Regions from separate parts of the Homo sapiens genome. Here region 1 is linked to region 2. The links come from fine-mapping of genetic effects on plasma protein levels. A gene starts in region 2. The other region holds a variant in brackets. All regions are shown on one strand. Distances are between the middles of the regions. Region 1 overlaps ADAM32 (ADAM metallopeptidase domain 32). Region 2 holds the start of ADAM9 (ADAM metallopeptidase domain 9).

What was found. A credible set is the group of variants that fine-mapping cannot tell apart. PIP is the posterior inclusion probability: the model's chance that the variant is causal. Protein levels are from antibody-based Olink assays in UK Biobank. Linkage for the fine-mapping came from a reference panel and not from the study's own genotypes, which makes the PIPs less certain.
Region 1: its variant is the best candidate, but not a certain one, in a credible set for the plasma level of the ADAM9 protein (UK Biobank, PIP 0.51).

Annotation. Positions count from the first base shown.
Region 1 is chr8:39,208,327-39,213,708 of GRCh38, forward strand. ADAM32 (ADAM metallopeptidase domain 32) reads left to right here. Exons shown (of 25, transcript NM_145004.7): 12 at 2,818-2,998. Among named protein-coding and RNA genes, the nearest start is that of ADAM32, 100 kb to the left of the region's middle. The variant T/A (reference allele first, on the strand shown) is at 2,839.
Region 2 is chr8:38,994,809-39,000,190 of GRCh38, forward strand. It overlaps ADAM9 (ADAM metallopeptidase domain 9), which reads left to right and starts at 2,165. Exons shown (of 22, transcript NM_003816.3): 1 at 2,165-2,352. The coding sequence starts at 2,256. TM2D2 (TM2 domain containing 2) reads right to left here and starts at 1,701. Exons shown (of 4, transcript NM_078473.3): 1 at 1,405-1,701; 2 at 510-597. The coding sequence starts at 1,631. RefSeq lists enhancers at 829-1,351, 1,352-1,873, 1,482-1,671, 1,832-1,931, 1,992-2,041 and 1 more and a silencer at 2,372-2,801.

The DNA.
Region 1 (5,382 bases), 210 kb after region 2:
TTTTGACTTTTTGATCTCTAAATTCACATATTTTTATATTACCTATCTCTTAAAAATTGTTGTAGTTATTGTTTTCAATATCTTTGGCTTTTAATCTTTATACCAAAGATATGAATGGTTTACACACCATAGTTACAGTGTTAGAGTGTTCTAAATTTGTTTGTTTACTTTTATACCTTCACATGTGTTCTTGTTGCACATTAGCATTCTTTTCTGTCAGACTGAAAAACTTCTTTTAGCATTTCTTATGGTTTGGTGGTGATGAATTCCCTCCACTTTCATTGGTCTAAGAGTTTTGAATCACTTCTTCATTTTTAAGGATAGTTTTCCTGGGTACAATATTCTTGGTTGAAAGTTTTTTCCTTCAGGACTTGGAATATGTCATTCCAGTCCTTCCTGGTCTTTAAGGTTTCCATAGAGAATTCTGCTGCCAGATGTACTGGCACTCCTTCATATGTTATTTGCTTCTTTTCTCTTACTGCTTTTAGGAGTCTCTATTGTCTTTGACCTATGAGAGTTTGATTATTATATGCGTTGAGGTAGTTTTATTTCGGTTGACTCTTCTTGGTGATCTTTGACCTTCTTGTAACTGGATATTTATATTGAGGTTTGGACAATTTTCCATTATTATTTATTTGAATAACCTTTCTACCCCCTTTCTCTTCCTCTACTCCCTTTGAAGGTCAATGACTCTTACATTTGCTATCTCACTGATCCAATAACTGTTCTTTGTTCTTTTAAATAACTTTTCTACCCCCTTTCTCTTCCTCTACTCCCTTTGAAGGTCAATGACTTGTACATTTGGTATCTCACTGATCCAATAAGTGTTATTTGTTCTTTTAAATTCACTTTTTCTTTTTTCTTCTTGACATATTTTCAAATAGCCTGTGTTTGTGCTCGTGAATTCTTCCTTTTGTTTGATCACTTCTGCTTTCGAGACCCTCTAATACATTTTTCAGTTTATCTATTATTGCTCCAGGAATTCTGCTTGATTTTTAAACTTATTTCAATCTCTTTGTTAAGTATCTCTGATAATTAATTTTCTGAATTGTTTCTCTGTGTTTTCTTGATGTTATTTGAGCTTCCTCAAAACATCTATTTTGCATTCTCTGTGTAAGAGTTTACACATATTTCTCCAGGTTTGGTTACTGGTGCCTTATTTATTATACTTGATGGGATCATATTTTCCTGAATGTTATTAATGCTTGTGGATGTATCTGGGCATTAAATAATTAAGTATTTCTTCTCATCTTTACAGTCTGGCCTTGTTTGTATTGGTCCTTCTTCAGAGGACCTTACAGAAATTCCAAGAGTACTGACTGATGAGTTAAGACCATGGTCACTGCTGCCATTTCAGCACTAGATAGCACCTTAAGCTCAATTACGCTGTGGCTCTCTTGAAGATTCCTATGCATCCAACCCTGATGGACTTGGGGAATATCAGAGACAGTTCTGTGGGTTTCCAAGCCCAAAGTCTCTTGCTCACTTCCTTTTTCTTCCCCTAGCAGAAGGAGTTGCTCTCTATACTGCACTGTCTGGAGTTGCTGGAGAGGTGATACATGCACTTTCATGGCCACTGCAACTGGCAGCATACTGGCTTACACCTGAAGCCCATGGCCTCATAGACCAGCACAGTAATGGTTAGGGTTTGCTCACCTAACACCCACAGTCACTATTACCTGACTGCTGCTGATATTTATTCATGGCCTAAAGCTTCTTTCATCAGCCAGTGGTGAAGCTGGCCAAGGCTTGGCTCTATCCTGCTGGGGTGATGAATTTTCTTCTTAGCTGGGGCAGGTCTAGAAATCTGTGGGCACCAGCCTGGAATCAGGGACCATGGGGTTCAGCCTGGTGCTGTGTTTTACGGTAGTGGGGCTGGTACAGGCTTTTCAGGCAAAGTCCCATGCACACTTCCTTCTCCCTCTCCTAAAAAGACAAATTCACTCTCTATGTGCATTGCTTCAGATTGGGGACGGGATGGTGTAGGCAACGCAAAACTGTCATTCCTATGCTCTTCAATGTGTCTTTTCTTGTTGTTATGCCAAAACCAGTTACTGTGATCTTTTACCTCATTCTTTTAGCTCTTGTGAAGGTGTTTTCTTGCATGGATAATTGTTCACTTCAGTGTCCCTACAGAGGGATGATCACTGGAGGGTTCTATCCCGTGCTCTTACTCTGCCTCCTCTTCCACATCTGATATCTTAAATCGTCACTTTCAAGACAATGTGCACAGCCAAATCAGTAATGAAATCTGGCACATAATAGGTACTCAATAAATCTCAGTTTCTTCCTTGCCTTACAGATGTTTACTACATACAAATATAGTAAAAATGGACTTCCTATGGAACTAGTCAATGAATTCTCTTTATTATTGGTATATGGACATAATAATATATAATTTTGATAAATATACACTTTTTTTCTGAGATCTTCAGGACTAAGCACATTATCATTTGTTTAATAAAATTTTGTGGTTAATTGGGTGCTAATTTTTATTTGAAGTGATGTCTGTCCAAATCTGGGTGCTGATTTTTATTTGGAATAATATCTGCTCAAATCCTTTGCCTATTTTAAAATTGGATTACTGTGTGTGTGTGTGTGTTGCTATTGAATTGTACTTAATTTTGTTTTATTAAGAACATGTATTCCAGTGAATAAAATCACATGACATCCTCAAGTATGATTTTGGCCTCTAAGCACTTATTATAAACATTTGTAACAGCCAATTGAATTTAACATTTTGAAATTAATTTATATCATATAGAAATGTGTTTCCAGAAGTATACTGCCAATGACATTATATGGATTCATCTTTAGGCAATCCAATGGTGTGAAGAC[T/A]TTTAGCAGTTGCAGTTTGAGGAGCTTTCAAAATTTCATTTCAAATGTGGGTGTCAAATGTCTTCAGAATAAGCCACAAATGCAAAAAAAATCTCCGAAACCAGTCTGTGGCAATGGCAGATTGGAGGGAAATGAAATCTGTGATTGTGGTACTGAGGCTGTAAGTATGATAACTAGGAAAATTGATTAATAAATTTATTGTTTTAATTTATCTTTTTCATAAATGTCATATATCTCAAATGTGAATGAGTACCATGCAGAATGTTGACAGTAAGTGAAGTTGGGTCGAAATACATACAAGAAAATACTGTTTAGATTTTGTAGGTTGAAGAATTTTGAACAAGTTTATAATGTACTGCAAAAAATTATTGGTAATGGGAAACAGGAGAGTCTAGAATAAGCTTTTGAGTTTCAGACTAAATATATAGGGTTCTTTACAAATCTCTGCTTAATCTTTGGACATTTTACAGATGTCTTAATGAAGATTGATTAAGCAGCCCAATGTGTCCTTTAGGTTATTACTTCACAATGGAATCAGTAGTACAGGAATCTGTATCAATATCAATATGAACACTAGATATTTTGATTATTCACTTGATAGGGAAACCCTGAAAATATAATGAATTCAAAAGGCCTAGGGTTTAATGCTTTTATATAATTCAGTATTTGTAGCAGTACTGCAAATGTTATAAATTTCCTTGGTTACAAGGTAGACAGAAATTTATTAGGGTCTGTTACATCCATAGGTCTGAATTACTTGAACCATATCACATTATTTTAATTACTGTGTTTTTGTATTATGTTTAACTATTTGGTAGAACAAGTCATCTTTCTTTATTTTTTATTTTATTTTAATTAATTTATTTTTTGAGATGGAGTTTTGCTCTTGTTGCCCAGGCTGGAGTGCAATGGAGCAATCTCGGCTCACTTCAACCTCCGCCTCCTGGGTTCAAGCGGTTCTCCTGCCTCAGCCTCCCAAGTAGCTGGGATTACAGGTGCCTGCCATCATGCCTGGCTAAGTTTGTATTTTTAGTAGAGACGGTTTCATCACGTTGGTCAGGCTGGTCTCAAACTCCTGACCTCAAGTAATCCACCTGCCTCGGCCTCCCAAAGTGCTGGGATTGCAGGCATGAGCTACCACACCTGGTTCTTGATTTTTTTTAAAAAAATCAATCTTATTGGGGTATAATCCACATACAATAAAATGCACCCATTTTAAGTGTACGGGTTGATGAGTTTCAACAAATGTATATAACTATTGGTAAAATTAAGATGTATATTTTCATCATCCCCAAAAGCTTATTCATATTTGCAGTCATTTCTACCTCCACCTGTCTCCAGATAATTTCTGATTCTGTTACCTTTGCCTGGTCTAGAAAGTCATATAAATGAAATGAGACAGCACATATTTTTTTATGTCTGGCTTTTTCCTTTCAATATAGTGTTTTTGAGATTCATCCATTTATTTCATATCACAATAGTTTCTCCCTTTTAATTTTGAGTAATATTTAATTGTGTGGATATATCACAATCTGTTTTAACCATTCACCTGCTAATGGACATTTAAGTTGTTAAACTATTGGTCCATTATTCTTAATTTGTAGAAGTACAACTTCTAGGTCATATGATATGTGTATGTTTATAAGAAATTGCCAAAATATTTTCCAAAATGGTTGTATCTTTTTACACTCCTGTCAGCAGCATATGAAACTTTGAGTTCCTTCATATCTGCACTAGAATTTGTTATTATCCACTTCTTAAATTTTAGCTATTCCAGTGGTTTTGTAGTGGTTTAAATTTGCATTTTCTTGATTACTTTAATGATGTTGAGCATGCTCTTACTGGCGATTTTTTAAAAACAATTATTTTCAATGGACAAATAATAATTGTGTATATTTCTGGGATACAGTGCAGTTTGGATATACATTTACTTTCTGTAATGATTAAGTCAAGGTTATTAACAAATCCATCACCTCACATACTTATTATTTTTTTTGTGGAGAAAACATTTAAAATTTACTTTTTAAGCAATTTTTTGATATATAATAGTTGTATACATTTTGGGGGTACATGTTATATTTTGATACCTGTATAGAATGCGTAATGATCAAATCAGGGTAATTTGAGTATGTACCACCTCATATATTTATATTTTATTTGTGCTGGGAATATTATAATTCTTCCCTTCTAGCTATTTTGAAGTATACAATAAATTATTAACTATAATTTCCCTACTGTACTATTGAGTGCTAGCACTAATCCCTTCCATTTACCTGTATTTTAGATCCCTTAACCAACTTTTCTTTTCTTTTGTCTATATCTTTTTAAAAAATTTCTAATTTTTGTGGGTAGTAGATGTGTATATTTATACATACATCTATTGCACATACATCTACCATATATTTATGGGTTACATGAGATATTTTGATACAGGCATGCTATGCATAATAATCACATGAAGGTAAATGAGGTATTCATTCCCTCAAACTTTATTTTTTTGTGTTACAAACAATCCAATTATACTCTTTTACTCATTTAAAAATG
Region 2 (5,382 bases):
CGCTGGAACGCTTTAATGTCCTACAAAGACATATACCGGTAGACTCTATCTGTCTCCTACGGACATGGTGGAACCTGTTTGCCTGGAGAAAAGAAATGTCATTGGCAAGAAAAGCTCTGCCCCAAATGCATGTGTAACAAAGATACTGCCCAATCCATCACCAGTGTTGCAAAGTGCACAGACTTCCTTTTGCTCTTTCAGGAAAGGTTCATGCCTTGAAGGAGAGTCAGGGGTGACATTTTAGTTTCAAAATCTGTCAGTGGCCAAAGGAACCAAAGACAGGTTGGTCTTTGCACCTGGGTGGTTTTAGCACAGAGATTGCTCCTTCATAAGGAAACCAAATATCTTGTTCAGTCACTGACCCTGGCCATACTGGAAATTTCCAGTAACGGTCTTTCTGAGGAAATTCTTCAAAAAACTTTGTACCTCTTATACTTTTATGTAATAGCATTCAGACATTCCTATTTCGTTATCGAAGGGTTTGCTCTTACGACAAAACAAAAACTCACCTTGAGACAACCATAACCAAGTTCCTGGGATGCAGTTGCATTTCCAACATGATCCACTGGGTCTTCACATTCTATAAATTCATCAGGTCTGTAATTCACCAGTAAGATCATGATCATCATCATACGGTCTTTGCAAATCGCTGTTTGCATGCACGTAATCAAAACGGGCAAAAGACATTTCTTCATCAAGTTTTCTGGGGTTCGGTTTCACCCTGCTGACCCCTTTCCAAGCCAATTAAACTGAAGCACAGCAGGTCAAACGGACAGCCACCAAAATGAACCTTTTGTTGGAGAAGGGAGGTGTTTCTGGTCCTGTTTCTATAAGGATTCTACTTCTGCCATGGTTTCATCTCTTCAGTAGGCAAACAACAAGATTCTGGGGGCAAAATTTAAGCCAAAGTATTCTCAGTCCTCTTTGCATTTCCCAAATGCCTTTTCTTGTTTGATCAAAAAGAGATGTTAAAAAATGGCGTGATTCTGCAACGGTAAGAATATTGATTGCTTTTTTAAAAGATGCCTTGTAGGCAGAGACAAGTCATTTACTCCATTTATGCCTTACTCAGTACTGGCACCGAATCGACCGACTAATACTCTCCTTGGGCTAAAGGGCGCAGGGCAAAGAAAGCACAACCTTACGCCCTTCTTCCAGAGGCTATATGATGTTACTCCTACCCAGTTTTCCTCTTTGGGGATCTCAAAGCCTCTGTCACTGACACACAAGAGTTTTCTCTGCACGGGCTGTGAGAAACCTGGTTCATGATATTTGCCTCCGGAACGACCTCAGAGAGGCAGGGTCTGAAAAAATGCAGCGTCCCCCCAACCCTGCCTTCCCTTAACACCCATATATTCCTGGCACACCCTCCACGTCCACCCGCCTCGACCACTGGTAGCTTACAGGTAAGAGCAGAGGATGACCGGAGAGTGGGGGTCGCCATATTCCCAGCTCGCAGCACCCCCGGGGCCCTCCGGCTGGGCGGCGCCAGCGGATGTGAGCTCAGGCTCAGCGGTCGCATTTTGCGAGTGGCTCCGAGACACACAATGCAGCAGAAGTAAATTCCCCAGCAGCAAAGCCGCCTGGCCGCACAGAAGTAAGTAACTAACCGGGCAACCACCTAGCACCATCTTCCCGGGCACAGGAGCGGAGACCCGGCCTCAACCACAACCCCAGGCCAGCAGCACAGACCCAAGAACTGCGTGGTCAGGCCTTTCCGCGTAGCCCCGCCCGCGTAGCCCCGCCAAACAGCCAATGGACGCGCAGCTCGACGCTCCGCGCACCTCCGCCAACCAACTAGAAAAGGTCGAGCAGACGGGCGGGGCTACTCCGCCCTCTGCTTCTGCTTCTCGATTCCTCTTCTGGGTCTCATGCTCCTCCTTCTTTTGCGCCGAATGCGTTCTCCAATCGGATCCGTCGACCCCCCTAGGTGGGCGTGCCCGGCAGCCGACGGGGCGGGGCGGATATGACTGGCGGGCCGACTAGTGCTGGTTGCCACCGCCGGTTTAGAAATCCTATTCTCGCGCCGGGGACTGGATTTTTCCCTACGTCAGCGCAGCTAGGCGATGTCGGGAGCGAGCTCGGACCGAGGGCTCAGTTGCGTCAGTGCCGCGCGCGTGCTCGTCGGGCGCGCGTGCTCGTCGGGCGCGCGCGCTTCCCGGCCAGACTTGGGGCCCCGGCAGGGTTGGAAAATGATGGAAGAGGCGGAGGTGGAGGCGACCGAGTGCTGAGAGGAACCTGCGGAATCGGCCGAGATGGGGTCTGGCGCGCGCTTTCCCTCGGGGACCCTTCGTGTCCGGTGGTTGCTGTTGCTTGGCCTGGTGGGCCCAGTCCTCGGTGCGGCGCGGCCAGGTGGGTGTCCGCGCCCCGGGTCGGTTGGGACGGCTGCTTCCTAGGGACGGGGCGCTCGGAGTGAACCTGTGGTGCCTGGGAGTGGAGGGGCCCGGCCTGGGGATCGGACCCGGGGTCGGGGGGCGCGGCCGCTCCAGGTGTGTGCGGACCGGGGTCGCACCCGAGGCGCGGGGTTTGGCGCCCCAAGCCCTTCTTGGCCCGGGTCCTCTGCCCGGCACCGCTTCCTCCGTGTCCTGTTCGATGGAGCCGTTCCCAGCGTCCCCCCATCCCTCGCCGCCTCGCGCGACCCCGGGTCCCCCAGACGCCCCGAAACCCGCTCTGGGGCGGGCGCTGACCTCGGCGGGCCGGAGCCCTGCAGGCTGGGCGCGCCCGCGGGCGTTCAGTCCTCCAAACGCCTGCAGGGAGGGAGCTGGCTCTCGCTCGTGGAGTTAATGTCGCTTGGAAAGAGACTGAGAGATGAAACTTTTGCTGCAGGTTATAATTTGAAATTTTGACGTTCATGGTATCCTTGGGTCAACACAGCTAAATTTAATGGTGGAATAAAGGTGGGTGGGAGGACGCTCATTTCTCTTGGGTCATTTTTGTAGTAAGAATATTTTGTAAACGATGTGCTACCTTTCTATAGCCAAACCATTCTTAAAAAATCTGTGTTTTTATTGGGTTCGTACTGTGTTAAATCCGGACAGATAATCCCTGCTCTTTTGAACTCACAGGATTATTGTAGGAATTAAATCATTTGTGTGAAATCGTTTTTGAATTGTGAAACTGCCCTTGACTATGTAAGATACTTGTATTGGAGATGCCCAAACATAGTGGAAGCAGATTGTCAGCACGCTGGCGTCTTTCTGGAAACAAGTTGTTTATTTTGGATTTTGTATGATATAATTGTTTGCATGGCTGTATTTTCTCTATCAGCGACAGAGGATGATGGAGAATGGGAGTTTTTACTAAATCATTGATTGAAAGTTATTCAAAGGTGATGATAGAAGATTTCAACGCAGGACTGTTGACCTTCAGGAAACTAATTACTTGTTTTTCTTATCTTTGGCTGCTTTATTTGAAATTAAGTAAATTTGCCCCAGTGTGGAAATGTTGAAACTCTGACAATGTTTTGAATGGGAAGTTGCCAAATTTCTTCTGGTTAAAACTACTTTTCCGGTGGTATTCTAGATGGTTAACACTCACCGATGTTTAAGGTGAAGACGATTATACATCCGGAGTTTTATTAATCTGTGATTTTTTTTTGTGTTTGTAAATGTAAATAAGACTGTATTTTTAAATGTTAATATAAATTGTCAGTCATTACCGACCTGCATTAGGTGAGTGGAATATCCTGATGGTCTTTAACTGTGGTTTTGGCCAGCTCCTCACTTCGGCATGTGTATGCCCCTTCAAAGTTTAGCCACCGTTTATGGAACTCCTATAAACACCACACAGTTGATTGTAGAGGGGCAGAAGGTGACCAAATATGCTAAGCGCATCTGAGAGATGTTGGGGAAGATTTTTAGAGAAAATAATATTTGAACTGGGCTACATCGGTGATTTTTCAAGTAGAATAGTAGATACATTCTAAGCAGAGGAAAGTTTTTGCAAGAGTATGGTGGGGCGGGGGGCGTATGAAAGAACATGACTTTTTAGGAAATGATAAAAATGTCAATATGTCTTCATGCAGACTATAAAAGGGAGGGATGGAAGATCAAACTAAGGTAGGTTGTTACCAGTTGGGAAGAGTCTTCTATGCTGAACTAAGGGGTTTGGACTTCACCCCGTAGGAAGTTCTTTGGGCAGTGGAGGTTTTAAGTAGGGGTGCGACCTAATCTCATTTTCTGTTAAGAAAACGGGCAACACGGTGGAGGATAGAATCTAGGAGGGAGAGACTAGAGGCTGGGACACCGGTTAAGAGGCTTTTGTAATAGTGTGCAGTGAGTCAACTCTTGTTTCTCTCGGGGAACGTTCATACAAAATCAGCTGACCACATTTTTGCAGTATAAGGTGTTTAAAACGTGCACTGAAACATTTTCCAGGATCGAAAGAGGAATTTGAGGTACCAGGCACACGTCAGTTACATTAGGAGTTAATTAGGTTTTATAGGATTTTTACTACCTTTTATAACATTGTCTCAATGAGGAAATGCAGTATAATTTCCAAACAGCTAACTTTCAGTAAACTTTTTTTTTTTTTTTAAACTGACAAAGGTAACTGTGTCATTGTAAAAAATAAGCGGAATCAGGTATGAAACCTCTTCTGATTTTCTAAGGTAGTAATTATGAGGAACAGATTTAGAATTTTTTTTTAAACAAAGACTGGCATTCTAAAGAAAATGACTTTGAAAGCTTACTCATGGTGAGTCACTGTAAAATCATTTGTGTAGTAAGAACTTAGGTCCATACTAATCTCGTTTTCAGATGCCAGCAAAATATTTGAATTTGATATGTTTGTGTTTGTGCCGATAGGAGAATGTAGCCTTTTACATTTAAGAATGATTTGGTTTTCAACCTTTTAAGTAAAAAAGAAAGCATATATAATTAAAATATGTACAAACCTAGTTCCTGGTTTCCAAGACAGTTTTCAAAAAGCACTTGAAGCTTTAACTTACCAAATTTATATTTGCTCTTTGTAAAAAATCTGGGTTTATAATAGAATTTATTATGGAATCCCCCAAAAGATGCAAGCTCTAAGTAACTGGAAGCTTTTTCTTGGGAATATCCGCAAGCTCAAACATATGACATAGCCTCATATTTCTTTTTCCTTTTTGGTATGTAACATATACTGGAGGCTTGGAGTCATGCCATCCTTTTGAGTCAGCGCTATGGAACTGCCTCATAAATGAATGCAGTCCTTTTGTATCTCAGTAGCTAATCCCTCACAGTCTTTTTTTTTTTGAGATGGAGTCTTGCTGTGTCGCCCAGGCTGGAGTGCAGTGGCACGATCTCGGCCCACTGCAACCTTCACCTCCCGAGTTCAAGCAATTCTCCTGCCTCAGCCTTATGCCTGGCTAGTTTTTTGTATTTTTAGTAGAGATGGAGTTTC